3 separate regions of the Homo sapiens genome follow, and regions 2 and 3 are each linked to region 1. The links come from fine-mapping of genetic effects on gene expression. A gene starts in region 1. Each other region holds a variant in brackets. All regions are shown on one strand. Distances are from middle to middle.

Region 1 (5,222 bases):
CGATCTCGGCTCACTGCAACCTCCGCCTCCCAGGTTCAAGCGATTCTCCTGCTTCAGCCTCCTGAGTAGCTGGGATTACAGGTGCATGCCACTACCGCCTGGCTAGTTTTTGTATTTTTAGTAGAGATGGGGTTTCACTATGTTGGCCAGGCTGGTCTTGAACTCCTGACCCCAAATGATGTACCCACCTCAGACTCCTAAAGTGTTGGGATTACAAGCATGAGCCACTCACTGCTCCCGGCCTGTATTATTTATTTATTTATTTATTTATTTTTTTTTGAGACGGAGTCTTGCTGTGTCTCCCAGGCAGCTGGAATGCAGTGGCAAGATCTCAGCTCACTGCAACCTCCTCCTCCTGGGTTCAAGCAATTCTTGTGCCTCAGCCTCCAGAATAGCTGGGATTACAGGCACAGGTCACCATGCCTGGCTGATTTTCTTTCTTTTTTTGAGATGGAGTCTCACTCTGCTGCCAGGCTGGAGTGCAGTGGCATGATCTGGGCTCACTGCAACCTCCACCTCCTGGGTTCTCCTGCCTCAGCCTCCCGAGTAGTTGGGACTACAGGTGCAAGCCACCACACCTGGCTAATTTTTGTATTTTTAGTAGAGACAAGGTTTTACCATGTTGGCCAGGATTGTCTCGATCTTTTGACCCCGTGATCCGCGCACCTTGGCCTCCCAAAGTGCTGGGATTACAGGCGTGAGCCACCACGCCCGGCCATTTTTTTTTTTTTAATAGACAGGGTCTTGCTTTGTTGCCCAGGCTACAAGGCACTAGTGTGATCACAGCTCACTACACCCTCTCGAACTTCTGGGTTCAAGTAATCCTCCTGCCTCAGCCTCCTGAGTAGCTGAAACTTTTATTATTATTATTATTATTATTTGTAGGGACAGGGTCTTACTATGTTTCCCAGGCTGGTCTTGAATTCCTTACCTCAAGTGATCCTCCCACCTTGGCCTCCCAAAGTATTGGGATTACAGGCATGAGCCATCATGACCAGCCCTGTGCTTCTTTCTTAAAATGAATGGGGATTCTCTTTCTGGGTCTGCTTCATATCCTTTTCATAGAGAATGGCAGTTTACTAAATTAATCCTGTGCTGGGTAACAATTCTCTTTCTCTCTCTCTCTTTTCTTTTTCCTTTTTTTTCTTTTTTCTTTTTTTGAGACGGAGTCTCACTCTGTCGCCCAGGCTAGAGTGCAGTGGCGTGATCTTGGCTCACTGCAACCTCTGCCCTCTGCCTCCCTGGTTCAAGCGATTCTCCTGCCTCAGCCTCCCAAGTAGCTGGGAATACAGGTGCCTGCCACCATGCCCGGCTAAATTTTTTTTTTTTTTGAGACGTAGTCTCGCTCTGTTGCCCAGGCTGGAGTGCAGTGGCAGGATCTCGGCTCACTGCAAGCTCTGCCTCCCAGGTTCATGCCATTCTCCTGCCTCAGCCTCCCGAGTAGCTGGGACTACAGGTGCCCACCCCCATGCCTGGCTAATTTTTTGTATTTTGTAGAGACCGGGTTTCACCACGTTAGCCAGGATGGTCTCGATCTCCTGACCTAGTGATCCCCCCGCCTCGGCCTCCCAAAGTGCTGGGATTATAGGCGTGAGCCACCGTGCCTGGCCTCTTAGGGGCTTTTGTAGGCTTTTCTCTGTCAAGGCAGCAGACCCTGAAGAGTTTAGGTGGGATTGGGTGGTGTTTTTTTTTTTTTCCCCCACTGGGAATGAGTAGAAGGGGGGACACTACATTCATTCAACACTTACTGGGTGCCTATTACATACAAGAGCTGTGTCAAGAGCTTCACATATTCTGCCTAAATGTTCCCAACAATGTTTGTGGGGTGGGCTGTATCATTCCCATGTTTGAGATATATAAGCTGAGGCCTGGAACTTGAAGGGCCCTGTCTGAAGTCCCAAAACTAGAAAACGATTTAGCCAAAATTTTTGTTTTAATCCGTATGTATGGCTCTCCAGGCTGATGGAGCTGGTCATATTTTGCAGTACCCAGAGGCTATACACCTGAGTACAGGCAGAAGCTACCCAGAGGATGATCTCTCCAGGCTTCTAAAGTATTTCTTTACTTGTTCAATGGTAATATTACTACTTTATACAGTTGTTGTGAGGATTAAATATGGTACGTAGGCCGGGTGTGGGGGTTCACGCTTGTAATCCCAGTTTGAGAGGTCGAAGTGGGAGGGTCGCTTGAGTCTAGGAGTTCGAAACCAGCCTGGGCAACGTGGTGAAACCTCGTCTCTACAAAAAACAAACGAACAAAGAAACACCCAAAAATTAGCCAAGCGTAGTGGCGCATGCCTGTAGTCCCAGCTACTCGGGAGGCTGAGGTAGAAGGATCGCTTGAGCCCGGGAGGTCGAGGCTGCAGTGAGCCGTAGTAGTGCCACTGCACTCCAGCCTGGGCGACAGAACGAGATCTTGTCTCAAAAATAAAATATTTAAAAATGTGGTATATAAAGCATTTGGCATATAGTACATTCAATACAAGCTGGTTGTTACTAGTAATGATAAAGTGCGCCTACCGTTTTGCTAGCACGTAACGTCTTCACTGGGCTAAATCAGCCCGATTCTAACCATTGACTCTGTGGTGCTGGAGCCCTAGATCAATGGTCAGAGGCCAGCAGGAGGTGCAGAGGTCCGGATCAAGTGCCATTTCCCTCTCTAGAAGTACTCAAACCCTCATCTCTGCCCTCATCCCTGCCAGCGCCTACCTCGACGCGGACGAGAAGCTGTGGTACCGCGACTGCTGGCAGGCCATGACCCACGGGCAGGCGGGCAATCAGCACCCGCGGCCTGGGAAGCTGTGGTAGCGTACAGCCGGTCGCCATGGCGACCAGGCCCCAGAGGCCCCCCCGCGGCGGGGGCGGAGTCAGGGATGCGCCACGCCCCCGAGCCTAGCGCCCGCGGGCTGGGAGTAGGACAAAGTAGCAAAGGTGGACTGGGACCCGGCAGCGGGTGCCCTGAGAGTCAACCACTACAGCCGATTTGACCCCAGGTACCAGAACTGAGGCAGGGGGATGAACAGAGGCCATGGGGAGGGAAGTGTGCTGAGAGGCCGGAGCCGCTTTGCCGGCGGGAATGGTAGTTTTCGGTGTCCCGACGTCTCGATGGGACAGGCTTATGGCTGAGGACGGTTATACTACATCTCCCAGAATTCTCTACCAGCCCGAGTTGCTCCGCCTCTCGAGAGCTCTGCATTGTGGGGTATGGAGTTCGAAATGTGGTAAGGCGTGTCAGTGTCCAAAGAGGGGTGCCGGACTCGGACTCGGTTTCCCTGCGGCCCAGGGAGGCTCACGGGCCATTGGCTGAGCGGGGCGGATCTGGTCCCGCTCCTCCCCGCCCCCAGTGACACAATAGTAGCTCCCTCCAAGATGGCGGCAGCGACGGCAGACCCGGGAGCTGGGAACCCGCAGCCTGGGGACTCCTCCGGCGGGGGCGCTGGGGGCGGGCTGCCGTCCCCTGGGGAGCAGGAGCTGAGCCGGCGCTTGCAGCGCCTGTATCCCGCGGTCAACCAGCAAGAGACTCCGCTGCCGCGCTCCTGGAGCCCCAAGGACAAATACAACTACATTGGTCTCTCCCAGGGCAACCTCCGCGTCCACTACAAAGGTATCGGCCCGTCAGGCTGGGGGGAATTAAGGCTAGAGCGTCCGTGGGGTGGCTCTGCTGCCAGGCCCCCGCCCTATCACCTCCCTTTCCCTGCCTAGGTGCTCCAAGTTAGGGCTTGGCCCTTTCAGGATGTCCAGGGTGGTGAGGCTGAACAGGCCGAGGGCTGACTGCCTGTTCTCTGTCCTGAGACACCTGCCGTCAAGAGAACCGCAACAGGTGTCCAAACCCAGTGCTGGGCCGGACCTTCCACTCCAGGGCCTCCGTGCTTATCCTAGGCTGGCGCCAACGGCAGCGGGACCTTTCGCCACTGCTTAGAAGAAAGGGGTGGTCACATACCTACCATTAGCGTGAGACTCATGGGCTTCCCCACCTGCCAGGCATCCTAGACTGAGCCTGGGGTTCCGTGCTAGAGTTTGGGGGGTGTCTTCCAGGTCGGCCTCATCCTTCTTCCCCTGGCCTCCCAGGTGGGCTGCCTGGATTCTAGAGAGGCTGCCAGCAGCACTTGAGTATCTCTCACATTGCCTCTACCCTTGTTTTGTTTGTATGGGCAGTGTCTCAGGCAGGACTGCTGTTCTCAGGAGGAGGTGAGGCAAAGGTGGAAGGTTTAAGTGTTTATTCAGTTGTCTAATGATTCCTCGGCCTGTGTAAGTGCGTCCTCTGGCCACAGAGGAGTGGAGTTGTCATGGAGGAGTTGCAGAGAAAAATGAGGCTTCCATTTGCATTTCCTTCTGCTGAAATTTCTTACTTGCCCTCTCCTGTTAGGTCATGGCAAAAATCACAAAGATGCGGCCTCAGTGCGTGCCACCCACCCCATACCTGCTGCCTGTGGCATTTATTACTTTGAAGTGAAGATTGTCAGCAAAGGAAGAGATGGGTAAGCCCTTCATGACCACCCTCTTTCCCTGATCATGGAGCTGATCCCTGTGGTCAGAGTTCAGGTCCTTTGGCTGGCACTTGTTGCTGATGTGAGCTGGGGAGCCGCATGGGTCTGGGCTGCCATTATTTCCTGACTGTGGGCATGGTCTGGTCTAAGCAGCAGATCTTGATGGCCAGTGGGTGTGTTGGGGGTAAAGCAGGGATTATTTTTAGTGATGATGTAATTTGATACCTAGAAGGTTAGGCAAACAAGTAACAAGTTTACTTTAAAAATTTAGTGTCCAGAATGGAGTTTCCCTCATGAGCATGTGGTGTTTTTGTGACTTCCTTCCTTTCACATTCTTGCTGTATTCATGAGGTTCTTTTTTATGGCATTTAGTCATGTGGAGGCCCTGGTAGCCTTCAAAGAGATAGTAGAGTCTTTGCAGCATTCATGAAAGCTTCTGTGGCCACCGGCCTGTCATCTCAGGGTAAACAGCATACACATGATCAGAATCAGGTGACCTTGCTGCTCATAAACTTGTTTTTCAGTCCAAGGACTTGAACACTACTAGTTGGATCAACTTTAGGAAGGTCCTCATTAAAGTCAGCATTAGGAGCCAGGCACGGTGGCTCACGCCTGTAATCCCAGCAATTTGGGAGGCTAAGATGGGCAGATCACCTGAGGTCAGGAGTTGGAGACTAGCCTGGCAAACATGCTGAAACCCTGTCTCTACTAAAAATACAAAAAAATTAACTGGCAT
Region 2 (5,222 bases), 170 kb after region 1:
CAGACAGTCATAGGGTGGGGCCTGGTAGCCTGTTGCCCTCTCAAAGACCAGGACCTAGATTCTGGAAAGTTCACAGGAAGAGACTGCATTTTTTTTCTTCTATTACAATCTAAACTCCACTTAAGCGGTAAGGAACAGCAGTCTACCCTGCCCATAGCTCAGCAAGGTGGAGGTGAAATGACAGCTAAGGGTGACAAGGAGGAGTCAGCTGCAGAAGATGCAGCACAGAGAGTTCCTGCTGCCTCCCCGATTGAAGAGACATACTTGGTTTGTTTGTTGGTTTTGAGATAGAGTCTTGCTCTGTGGTCCAGGCTGGAGTGCAGTGGCACAATCTTGGCTCACTGCAGCCTCCGCCTCCCAGGTTCCAGCAATTCTCCTGCCTCAGTCTCCCGAGTAGCTGGGATTACAGGTGCCCACCACCATGCCTGGGCTAATTATTATTATTATTATTATCATTATTATTATTATTATTTTAGACAGAGCTTCGCTCTTGTTGCCCAGGCTGGAGTGCAGTAGGGCGATCTTGGTTCACTGCAGCCTCCGCCTCCCAGGTTCCAGCAATTCTCCTGCCTCAGTCTCCCGAGTAGCTGGGATTACAGGTGCCCACCACCATGCCTGGGCTAATTATTATTATTATTATTATCATTATTATTATTATTATTTTAGACAGAGCTTCGCTCTTGTTGCCCAGGCTGGAGTGCAGTAGGGCGATCTTGGTTCACTGCAACCTCTGCCTCCTGGGTTCAAGCAATTCTTCTGCCTCAGCCTCCCAAGTAGCTGGGATTACAGGCATGTGCCACCACACCCAGGGAATTTTTATGTTTTTAGTAGAGACGGGGTTTCACCATGTTTGTCAGGCTGGTCTCCAACTCCTGACCTCAGGTGATCTGCCCACCTCGGCCTCCCAAAGTGCTGGGATTACAGGCGTGAGACACCATGCCTGGCCACGAAGAGACATAATTTGGATTAAGATCTAAGGCTCTAAGACCACACAGAACCCTCAAACTGCTTGTAGGGTGACAATTCAGTAGGTCTCACACAGTACTGCCAAGGAACCAAGAATGCAGGTTCTGGCCAGGTGTAGTGGCTCATGCCTATAATCCCAGCATTTTGGGAGGCCGAGGTGGATCGCCTGAGCTCAGGAGTTCGAGACCAACCTGGCCAACATGGTGAAACCTTGTCTCTACTAAAATACAAAAAGTTAGCCAAGCGTGGTGGTGGGCACCTGTAGTCCCAGCTACTGGGGAGGCTGAGGCATGAGCATTGCTTGAGCCCAGGAGGCAGAGGTTGCAGTGAACCAAGATCTCACCACTGTACTCCAGCCTGGGCGACAGAGCAAGACTCCGTCTCAAAAAAAAAAAAAAGCAGGTTCTGCAGGCACACTGCCTAGATTTTGACACTGAACACATTGCTTAGCCTTTCTGGTCTTCCAGTTTTGTTTGTAAGCCGGAGCTATTAACTAACCTCAAGCCTTGCTCAAAGGATTCAATGTTTATTAAGGGAAGTGCCCGCAACAGTGCCTGGCACTCAGATAACACTCACATTTGCCAAGTCTACCATGACAACCCAGGGATTCCAAAACAGAATGGCAGAAAATCCACCTCACTGGGATTTTTCTGTTTAGAATGACAAGGAGGAGAGAGAAATGAGAGTGACTGCCAAAAGGGCTGGAGCCATGCCCAGGTGGAGGGCCTCTGGAGGCTGCAGCGATGCCAGTGGGGCCAGTCCCTGTGTGTGTGAGCACATGGGGGCAGGCAGGGACAACTAAGAGATCTGGACAGGCTTGCAGGGCTAGCCACGTGGCTGATGGTGGTCAGGGAGGTAGTAACACAGCAAACCTGATCTCAGAGACCAAGTGAACACATGGGACTCGGTTCTTACAAGTGACAGTGACTCAGTGAGAAGCTGTCAGCTTGTTCAAGCCCGTCTGTGTTCTGGATGGCATGCCACTCCATGGGCATTCAGGAAATGTCAAAGCTCCCGAGAGCATCAGCCTCGCCTGCTCTGGGTAGCACAGGCTGAGGGCGAGACTTGCCTCCCAGGTGGGCCGGGCTATGCCCCCTTGGTGCTGCCATAAGGCTCACCACAGATGATTTTCAAAGACCAGGTCCTGACAAGTCAGAGAAGGGTTCAGGTACTTGCTGAGCTGGGCAGCAATAGGGTGATGCCAGCCTAGGGGTGAAAGGGGCAAAGGTTCTTTACTTCTGTGGCTTAACACTGAGGGAGCTGCATGCAGGTTCAGGAACTTCCCTGTCAACAGAAGCAGTAACACAACTGGCTTCTGCTGCTGAATGTTTTATAATTAAGGGACAGACAGGATGCATCCTGGGCTATGCAGCAGGAGGATCCCTTTTCAGCCTTAACTCCATCAGGATGTCAATTCTCTTGCCCCCTCTCCAGCTAAAACAAATCCACTTTTAAACTTTTTTTTTTTGAGACGGAGTCTCGCTGTCACCCAGGCTGGAGTGCAGTGGCGCAATCTTGGCTCACTGCAACCTCCGCCTCCCGGGTTCAAGCAATTCTCCTGCCTCAGCCTCCCAAGTAGCTGGGAGGCTACTTTTAAACTTT[TA/A]AACTTTCTAACAGAGGGCCGGGCATGGTGGTGCACGCCTGTAATCCCAGCACTTTGGGTGGCCGAGGCGGGCGGATCATGAGGTCAGGAGATTGAGACCATCCTGGCCAACATGGTGAAACTCCGTCTCTATTAAAATACAATTAGCCAGGTGTGGTGGTGCGTGCCTGTATTCCCAGCTACTGGGGAGGCTGAGGCAGGAGAATTGCTTGAAACTGGGAGGCAGAGGTTGCAGTGAGCCGAGATCACGCCACTGCACTCCAGCCTGGCAACAGACCGAGACTCCATCTCAAAACAAACAAACAAGCAAACAAACAAACAAAAACCTTTCAAACAGAATGTATACAATCAGGAATGACAGGCTGTGTTGAATGAAGATACAGAAAAACTGAGCCTCATTGTTCTGCAAAGAGGTTATATATGCTTAGGTGGCTGGGAATGGTGGTTCATGCCTATAATCCAGCACTTTTGGAGGCTGAGGCAGGAAGATCACTTCAGTCCAGGAGTTTGAGACTAGCCTGGGCAACATAGCAAGATCCTATCTCTAAAAAAAAAAAAAAAAAAAAAAACCCTAAAAAAACAAAAAAAACAAAAATGAGCCAGGTGTGATGGCATGGCCCATAGTCCCAGCTATCCAGGAGGCTGAGGTAGGAGGATTGCTTGAGCCTAGTTCAAGGTCACAGTGAGCTGATTGTGCCACCACATCCCAGCCTAGGTGACAGAGTGAGACCCTGTCTCAAAAAAAACTTGGAATTAAAAAAAAGTTGGGGCCGGGTGTGGTGGCTCATGCCTGTAATCCTAGAACTTTGGGAGGCCGAGGCGGGCAGATCACCTGAGGTCAGGAGTTCCAGACCAGCCTGGTCAACATGGTGAAACCCCATCTCTACTAAAAATACAAAAATTAGCAAGGTGTGGTGGTGGGTGCCTGTAATCCCAGCTTCTCAGGAGGCTGAGGCAGGAGAATCCCTTGAACCCGAGGTGGAGGTTGAAGTGATCCAAGATTGTGCCACTGCACTCCAGCTTGGGTGACAGAGCGAGACTCCGTCTCAAAAAAAAAAAAGAAAAAAAGAAAAAAAGTTTTGGCTGGCTGGTAGGGGGTACCCTGGCGGGTAAACCCGTGGATGGGATAGAGAACTCAAGCTCCAACAGCCTGAGACCACTAACTTTCAGACCAACGAGTTAACTGCCTGGCTGAGTCCCGAGGCCCCAGGAGGCCCTGGGTCGTTTTCCTGGGAGACCCATCTGTGTGGACAGCACTAGCCAGCTAAAAGCTTCACACATTTTGCTCTGTTACTTCTAATTGACAACTCCTAAGTTGGAATTTAGGTTAAAAAACTCAAGTGGTTTAAGCTTTCACCTCAAGTGGGTTTGCCAAAGCAATCTGCCTAGGAATGGCAGCAGCAGCAAGATAATTTTCCACTCACGCCTAAGATTCCAAACACGACACAACTCCCTTTCCAACCACCTTCCTGAAGTGCTACCAGGCAGCTCTATTATCTAAGACGGTCTCTTCACTACTCGGTGGTTGTGCATCTGTCTCTCCTTTCAAATGAACTTCTCTAGGGCAGACTGGGCCCAGCTCCTCTCTGTTCCCTCACACCTGGCAGAGCTCCAGGTACATCTGATCCTAGGCCTCCTTGAGCTGAGAGCCTGAGTAGACCAGCTTCCCCTCAGCCCCTTTCACTCTAAGCAGCTCTACGCCCCATCTACTCTGTGCATGGGGCACTTACTCCTCAAGTGGATCATGGAAGCTGGCTGCTGTCCATCTACTCACCTGTCTACTTAGACACACATTTTGGGGAGTTAAGAAGTTACAGCAGGGGCCGGGTGTGGTGGCTCACGCCTGTAATCCCAGCACTTTGGGAGGCCTAGGCAGGCGGATTACAAGGTCAGGAGATCGAGACCATCCTGGCTAACACAGTGAAACCCAGTCTCTACTAAAAATACAAAAAATTGGCCAGGCATGGTGGCAGGCGCCTGTAGTCCCAGCTACTCGGGAGGTTGAGGCAGGAGAATGGCGTGAACCTGGGAGGTGGAGGTTGCAGTGAGCTGAGATTGCGCCACTGCACTCCAGCCTGGGCAACAGAGCGAGACTCCATCTCAAACAAAACAAAACAAAACAAAACAAAACAAAAAAACAGTTACAGCAGGATGCGCTCAATATCCAGTCACCCGCCAAGATCATATCGTCCCATCTGCTAGAGAAAGTACCATCCCAGGGAACAGAGGTTGCCTGTGAAAGGCAGCAGCCTGCACAGCCTGGAACCATGTATGCAGCCCCCCAGCCTCCCTCAAGCAGGCAGGAATCACGCAAGATGGAGTCTTTGGAGCACTTGTTAATCCGTTATGATTTATTAGCTGTACAGCAGTAGATCCTCCTCCCCAGCTTTCAACCCCATTACATATTTTATTACAGGTCTCATGTTGGCGTCCTAAAATAATGAAAAATATCACACAGTACAGCTAAGTACAAAATGCATCAACCTAGAGTCTGATAGCTAACTGATGGCTCTCTTAAAAGCAATACACAGAAGAAAAAAGTGTTTGAAATCAGTAAGACTGAGGCTCTCTAAAAAACACATTTTTAAACATGTGACAGTTCATGTGCAAGAATCACTTTTTAGTTGGTTTTGCTTCACATTATTTTATTTTT
Region 3 (5,222 bases), 23 kb after region 1:
TCTTTATTTTTGATATTAAACCCTTATCAGATCTATGATTTGCAAATACTTTTTCCTATTCCATTGATTGTCTTTTCACTCTCTTATTTTTTATTTTTATTTTTATTTTTTTCAGATGGATTTTTGCTCTGTCGCACAGGCTGGAGTGCAGTGGTGCAATCTTGGCTCACTGCAGACTTAACCTCCTGGGCTCAAGTGATCCTTCCACCTCAGCATCCCAAGTAGCTGGGACTACAGGTGCATGCCACCATGACTGGCTAAATTTTAAATTTTTTGTAGAGATGGGGTCTTGCCATGTTGCCTAGGCTGGTCTTGAACTCCTGGGCTCAAGCAGTCCTCCTGCCTCCACAGCCTCCCAAAGCACTGGTATTACAGATGTGAGCTACCATGCCTGGCCTCTTGATGATGTCTTTTTTTTTTTTTAATTATTATTATTTTTTTTGAGATGGAGTCTCGCTCTGATCTCCGCTCACTGCAAGCTCCGCCTCCCAAGTTAACGCCATTCTCCTGCCTCAGCCTCCCGAGTAGCTGGGACTACAGGCGCCTGCCACCATGCTCGGCTAATTTTTTGTATTTTTAGTAGAGACGGGGTTTCACCGTTTTAGCCAGGATGGTCTCGATCTCCTGACCTTGTGATCCACCACCTTGGCTTCCCAAAGTGTTGGGATTATAGGCGTGAGCCACTGTGCCTGGCTTTTTTTTTTTTTTTGAGATGGAGTCTCACTCACTCTGTTTCCTAGGCAGGAGTGCAGTGGTGTGATCTCAGCTCACTGCAACCTTTGCCTCCCGGGTTCAAGTGATTCTCCTGCCTCAGCCTCCTGAGTAGCTGGAATTACAGGCATGGACCACCATACCTGGCTAATTTTTGTATTTTTAGTGGAGACGGGGTTTTGCCATGTCGACCAGGCTGGTCTCGAACACCTGACCTCAAGTGGTCCGCCTGCCTCAGCCTCTCAAAGTGCTGGGATTATAGGCATGAGCCCCGATGATGTCTTTTGATGCACAGAAGTTTTAATATTAATTAAGTCCAATTCATGTATTTTTCTTTTTGTTCATCCTTTTTGTATCATCTCTAAATCCATTGTGAAATCAAAGGTCATGAAGATTTACCCTTACGCTTTCTTCTAAGAATTTTATGGTTTTGGCTCTTTCCTTTTTATTTTAGTTTTTCCCTTCCTTCCCTCCCTCCCTTCTTTCTTTCTTTCTTTTTTATTTATTTATTTATTTTTGAGACCGACTCTCGATCTGTCACCCAGGATGGAATGCAGTGGCACGATCTCGGCTCACTGCAACCTCCTCTTCCAGGGTTCCAGTGATTCTCCTGCCTCAGCCTCCCGAGTAGCTAGGATTATAGGCACCTGCCACCACGCCTGGCTACTTTTTTTGTATTTTTAGTAGAGATGGGGTTTCACCATGTTGGCCAGGTTGGTCTCAAACTTCTGACCTCAGGTGATCTGCCCGCCTCGGCCTCCCAAAGTGCTGGGATTACAGGCGTGAGCCACCGCACCCAGCCTATTTTTTTTTTTTTAAGTGCTACTGGGCCAGTGCCAGATTTTTGGCCCAGGGCCTTACCTCTTATATTTAGATCATTTTCTTTTCTTTTCTTTTTCTTTTTTTTTTTTAGATGGAGTTTCGCTCTTGTCACCCAGGCTGGAGTGCAATGGCTCAATCTCGGCTTACTGCAACCTCCGCCTCCCGGGTTCAAGCGATTTTCCTGCCTCAGCCTCCCGAGTAGCCGGGATTACAGGCATACACCACCAAGCTAGGTTAATTTTTTTTTTTTTGGGATGGAGTTTCACTCTTGTGGCCCAGGCTGGAGCGCAATGACTCGATCTTGGCTCACCGCAACCTTCACCTCCCAGGTCCAAATGATTCTCCTGCCTCAGCCTCCAGAGTAGCTGGGATTAGAGGCATGGGCCACCACGCCCGGCTAATTTTGTATTTTTAGTAGAGACGGGGTTTCTCCATGTTGGTCAGGCTGGTCTCAAACTCCCAACCTCAGGTGATCCTCCCGCCTTGGCCTCCCAAAGTGCTGGGATTACAGGCGTGAGCCACCAGGCCTGGCCTAATTTTGTATTTTTAGTAGAGA[T/C]AGGGTTTCACCATGTTGGTCAGGCTGGTTTCAAACTCCTGACCTCAAATGATCCACCCGCCTTGGGCTCCCAAAATACTGGAATTAACAAGCGTGAGCCACCTCTCCCGGCCTCCACCTGATTTTCTTATGTTGAACCATCCTTGCCTTTCTGGGATAAATCCCATTAGGTTGTGGTATATAATCCTTTTAATACACTGTTGGATTTGGTCTGCTACTATTCTATTAAGGATTTTTGCATCTATATTCATCTATATTGCTCTATAACTTTCTTTTCCTTTGATGTCTTTTTTTTTTTTTTTTTTTTGAGACGGAGTCTCTCTCTCTGTCACTCAGGCTGGAGTGCAGTGGCGCCATCTTGGCTCACTGCAACCTCCACCTTCCAGGTTCAAACACTTCTCTGCCTCAGTCTCCCGAGTAGCTGGGATTATAGACACCCGTCAGCACGCCCGGCTAATTTTTTTGTATTTTTAGTAGAGATGGGGTTTTACCATCTTGGCTAGGCTGGTCTTGAACTCCTGACCTTGTGATCCACCTGCCTTGGCCTCCCAAAGTGCTGGGATTATAGGCGTGAGCCACCGCACTCAGCCTGATGTCTTCTTAGTGGCTTTTTGATTGCTGTTCCAGGGTCTTCCTCATCTTGGGTTTGCATCTGGGCACTGCACATTTACAATGTGCACAGACATTTTTCTGTGAAGAATTGAAGTCTAGGTCAAAGCTGGGAAGGAGCTTAGGAGCCTTTGGTTTAACCTTTCCTCCTCTAATAAGGAACCTGATATGTGGGTTGAAATCTAAGACCCATAGTCTTGAATTAGGCTGGAGTGTCTGAGACCAGCCTTTTAGAGTCAAGGGTGTTGTGTTTGGAGCCCTGCTGTGAAGTGTTCTTGTCACCTCAGAACTCTTCAGGAGGCAGGAGGGGAAGTCAGACTTGTTGCCAAAGGGGTTCTCTGTGCAGGGTTCTCAAACTTGTTATCAGGACTGGGTGGTAGAGTACAGTAAAGGGGTCGTCTCCTTCCCGTGGCCTTGTACATATCTGGGAGGTGTGAGAGTCAGGTGGCCCTGGTTTCTAAAGTTCTGTCCTCTGTCCACCACCAGGCCTGCCTGGGTCGCAGAAGAAACTCTAGTCAGTTGGAGCTGTGCCAAATCTGTCTCACTGCAGCAGGGTCTCCTGCGTGTGTGCTCTGTGCCCAGCTTGGGACATACTAGGTGCCATGTGAGCCGGAACCTCAGGGCCTCTGCTCAGCAAGGATTTTGACTGTTTCTGAAGCTGTACTGTTGTGATGCAGCCTCTGCCCTTCTGTCAAGACTCGGGGTGCTAGGTGGACCAAGGAGCTGACTGTGAAAGCCACGTTCCCTAATGTGTCCCCCATCACTGAAATGTCCTGGGGTGATCCAGAGAGAGTCTGATGAGTGAGAGCCAAAAACCTCTGCAGTATGTAGCCATTACTCTTAAAAGTGGCTTTTAAGAGATGGCTCTTAAAAGTGGCTTTTAAGAGATGGCTCTTAAAAGTGGCTTTTAAGAGATGGCTCTTAAAAGTGGCTTTTAAGAGATGGCTCTTAAAAGTGGCTTTTAAGAGATGGCTCTTAAAAGTGATTTTTGGCCCAGCACGGTGGCTTATGCCTGTAATCCCAGCACTTTGGGAAGCCGAGCTGGGCGGATTACATGAGGTCAGGAGTTGACCAGCCTGGCCAACATATAGTGAAACCCCATCTCTACTGAAAAATACAAAAATTAGCTGGGTGTGGTAGCGCACGCCTTGTAGTCCCAGCTACTTGGGAAGTTGATGCAGGAGAATTGCCTGAACCTGGGAGGCAGAGGTTGCAGTGAGCCAAGATCGCGGCACTGCACTCCAGCCTGGGTGACAGAGCAAGACTTCGTCTCTAAAAAAATAATAAAATAAAATAAAATATAAAATAAAATAATTGGCTGGGTACGGTGGCTCACACTTGTAATCCAAGCATTTTGGGAGGCCAAGGCAGGCTGATCGCTTGAGCTCAGGGGTTCAAGACTAGCCTAGGCAACAGGGCAAATCCCCATCTCTAAACTACCCAGGTGTGGTGGCACTCACCTATGGTCCCAGCTATTCAGGGGGCTGATGTGGGAGGATGGCTTGAGCCTGGGAGGCAGAGGTTGCAGTGAGCAAGGTCTCACCATTGCACTCCAGCTTGGGAGACAGAGTGAGACCCTGTCTCAAATAAAAACTAAAAATAGAAATTAAAATTTAAAAATTGTAAAAAGTAATTTGTGTTAGTTGTAGAAAATCTGGAAAAGCAAAGAGAAAAAGGAATCCAAGAGGACTGGACTGTGCTTGCAGCTCTCCACATGACTGCAGGGTTTCAGCAGACTTGAGCTCGGGTGGCAGGGCTGGGTGGACCCCCTTGCTCGGGTGGCAGCATGGACCCCCTGCCAGTTGCAGTGGATAGTGGGAGCTTCTGGGTGGATTTGTGAGTGTGGACACCTGTGGGCCTTTGCTGCCTGCTTCCAGGTGCGGTTGCTTCTTCTCTATCTTGTGTTCTGGTGGATCTCGACTCCACTTGTCCCAAGCAGTGCCTATTTGCTGCCCTCTTCTCTCTTGAGCTAGATAGGGCAGAATAGCTGTTCTCGTATCTCCACCTTGCATTGTGGTTTTGGCAGGCAACGGTAGGAACTGAGAAGTTACAGGCCTACTCATGGCCTCACTGCCACGAAGAGCTTGTCTGTTGCCTCTCTGTGCTTCCTGTCTCACCTCTCTGGCATGATATTTCTTCTCCACTTTGCTGCCATATAGAAGAAAGGAGTAAATCAGATGGCTTTACCTTACTTTCACCTGTGTCATAGCGTAAATAATTCCCTCTCCCCAGCTCCTGAAATATATCCTGCAGTTAGAAAAGAAGGCCCTGGTAGAGAAGTGTTGGGAGCTAAGCTGCTCTATCTATTCTAGTCACCTGCTCCGGGAGTAAAAGCCCTTGTTGCCGCCCTCCCTCCCAGGCTGACCCAGGCAGGTTGTATCTGTGAGTGTTTCTAGCATAGCCTGGCCCATTACCAACAAGGAAGCAAATATTCACCTCCTTTCTCCTTGGTAATCTCAAGTAAACAGGTGTTTGTTTTAGATGTCCTGAGATCCAGGCCTTCCAGAATGGCCTCATTTCCTTA

The links. PIP is the estimated chance that this variant, and not a neighbour inherited with it, causes the effect.
Region 2: its variant is fine-mapped to the expression of TSNAXIP1 in aorta (GTEx, PIP 0.93).
Region 3: its variant is fine-mapped to the expression of TSNAXIP1 in thyroid (GTEx, PIP 0.97).

What each region holds. Positions count from the first base shown.
Region 1 is chr16:67,804,683-67,809,904 of GRCh38, reverse strand. TSNAXIP1 (translin associated factor X interacting protein 1) reads right to left here and starts at 3,016. Exons shown (of 16, transcript NM_001288990.3): 1 at 2,709-3,016. The coding sequence starts at 2,755. It overlaps RANBP10 (RAN binding protein 10), which reads left to right and starts at 3,345. Exons shown (of 14, transcript NM_020850.3): 1 at 3,345-3,603; 2 at 4,366-4,477. The coding sequence starts at 3,369. RefSeq lists silencers at 2,787-2,906, 3,407-3,626 and enhancers at 3,047-3,276, 2,982-3,601, 3,602-4,222.
Region 2 is chr16:67,638,854-67,644,075 of GRCh38, reverse strand. CTCF (CCCTC-binding factor) reads right to left here. Exons shown (of 12, transcript NM_006565.4): 12 at 4,899-5,222. Among named protein-coding and RNA genes, the nearest start is that of CARMIL2, 3.7 kb to the left of the region's middle. The variant TA/A (reference allele first, on the strand shown) is at 2,569.
Region 3 is chr16:67,781,219-67,786,440 of GRCh38, reverse strand. All of the region lies in intron 2 of RANBP10 (RAN binding protein 10), which reads left to right. Among named protein-coding and RNA genes, the nearest start is that of RANBP10, 23 kb to the left of the region's middle. RefSeq lists an enhancer at 4,832-4,981. The variant T/C (reference allele first, on the strand shown) is at 2,090.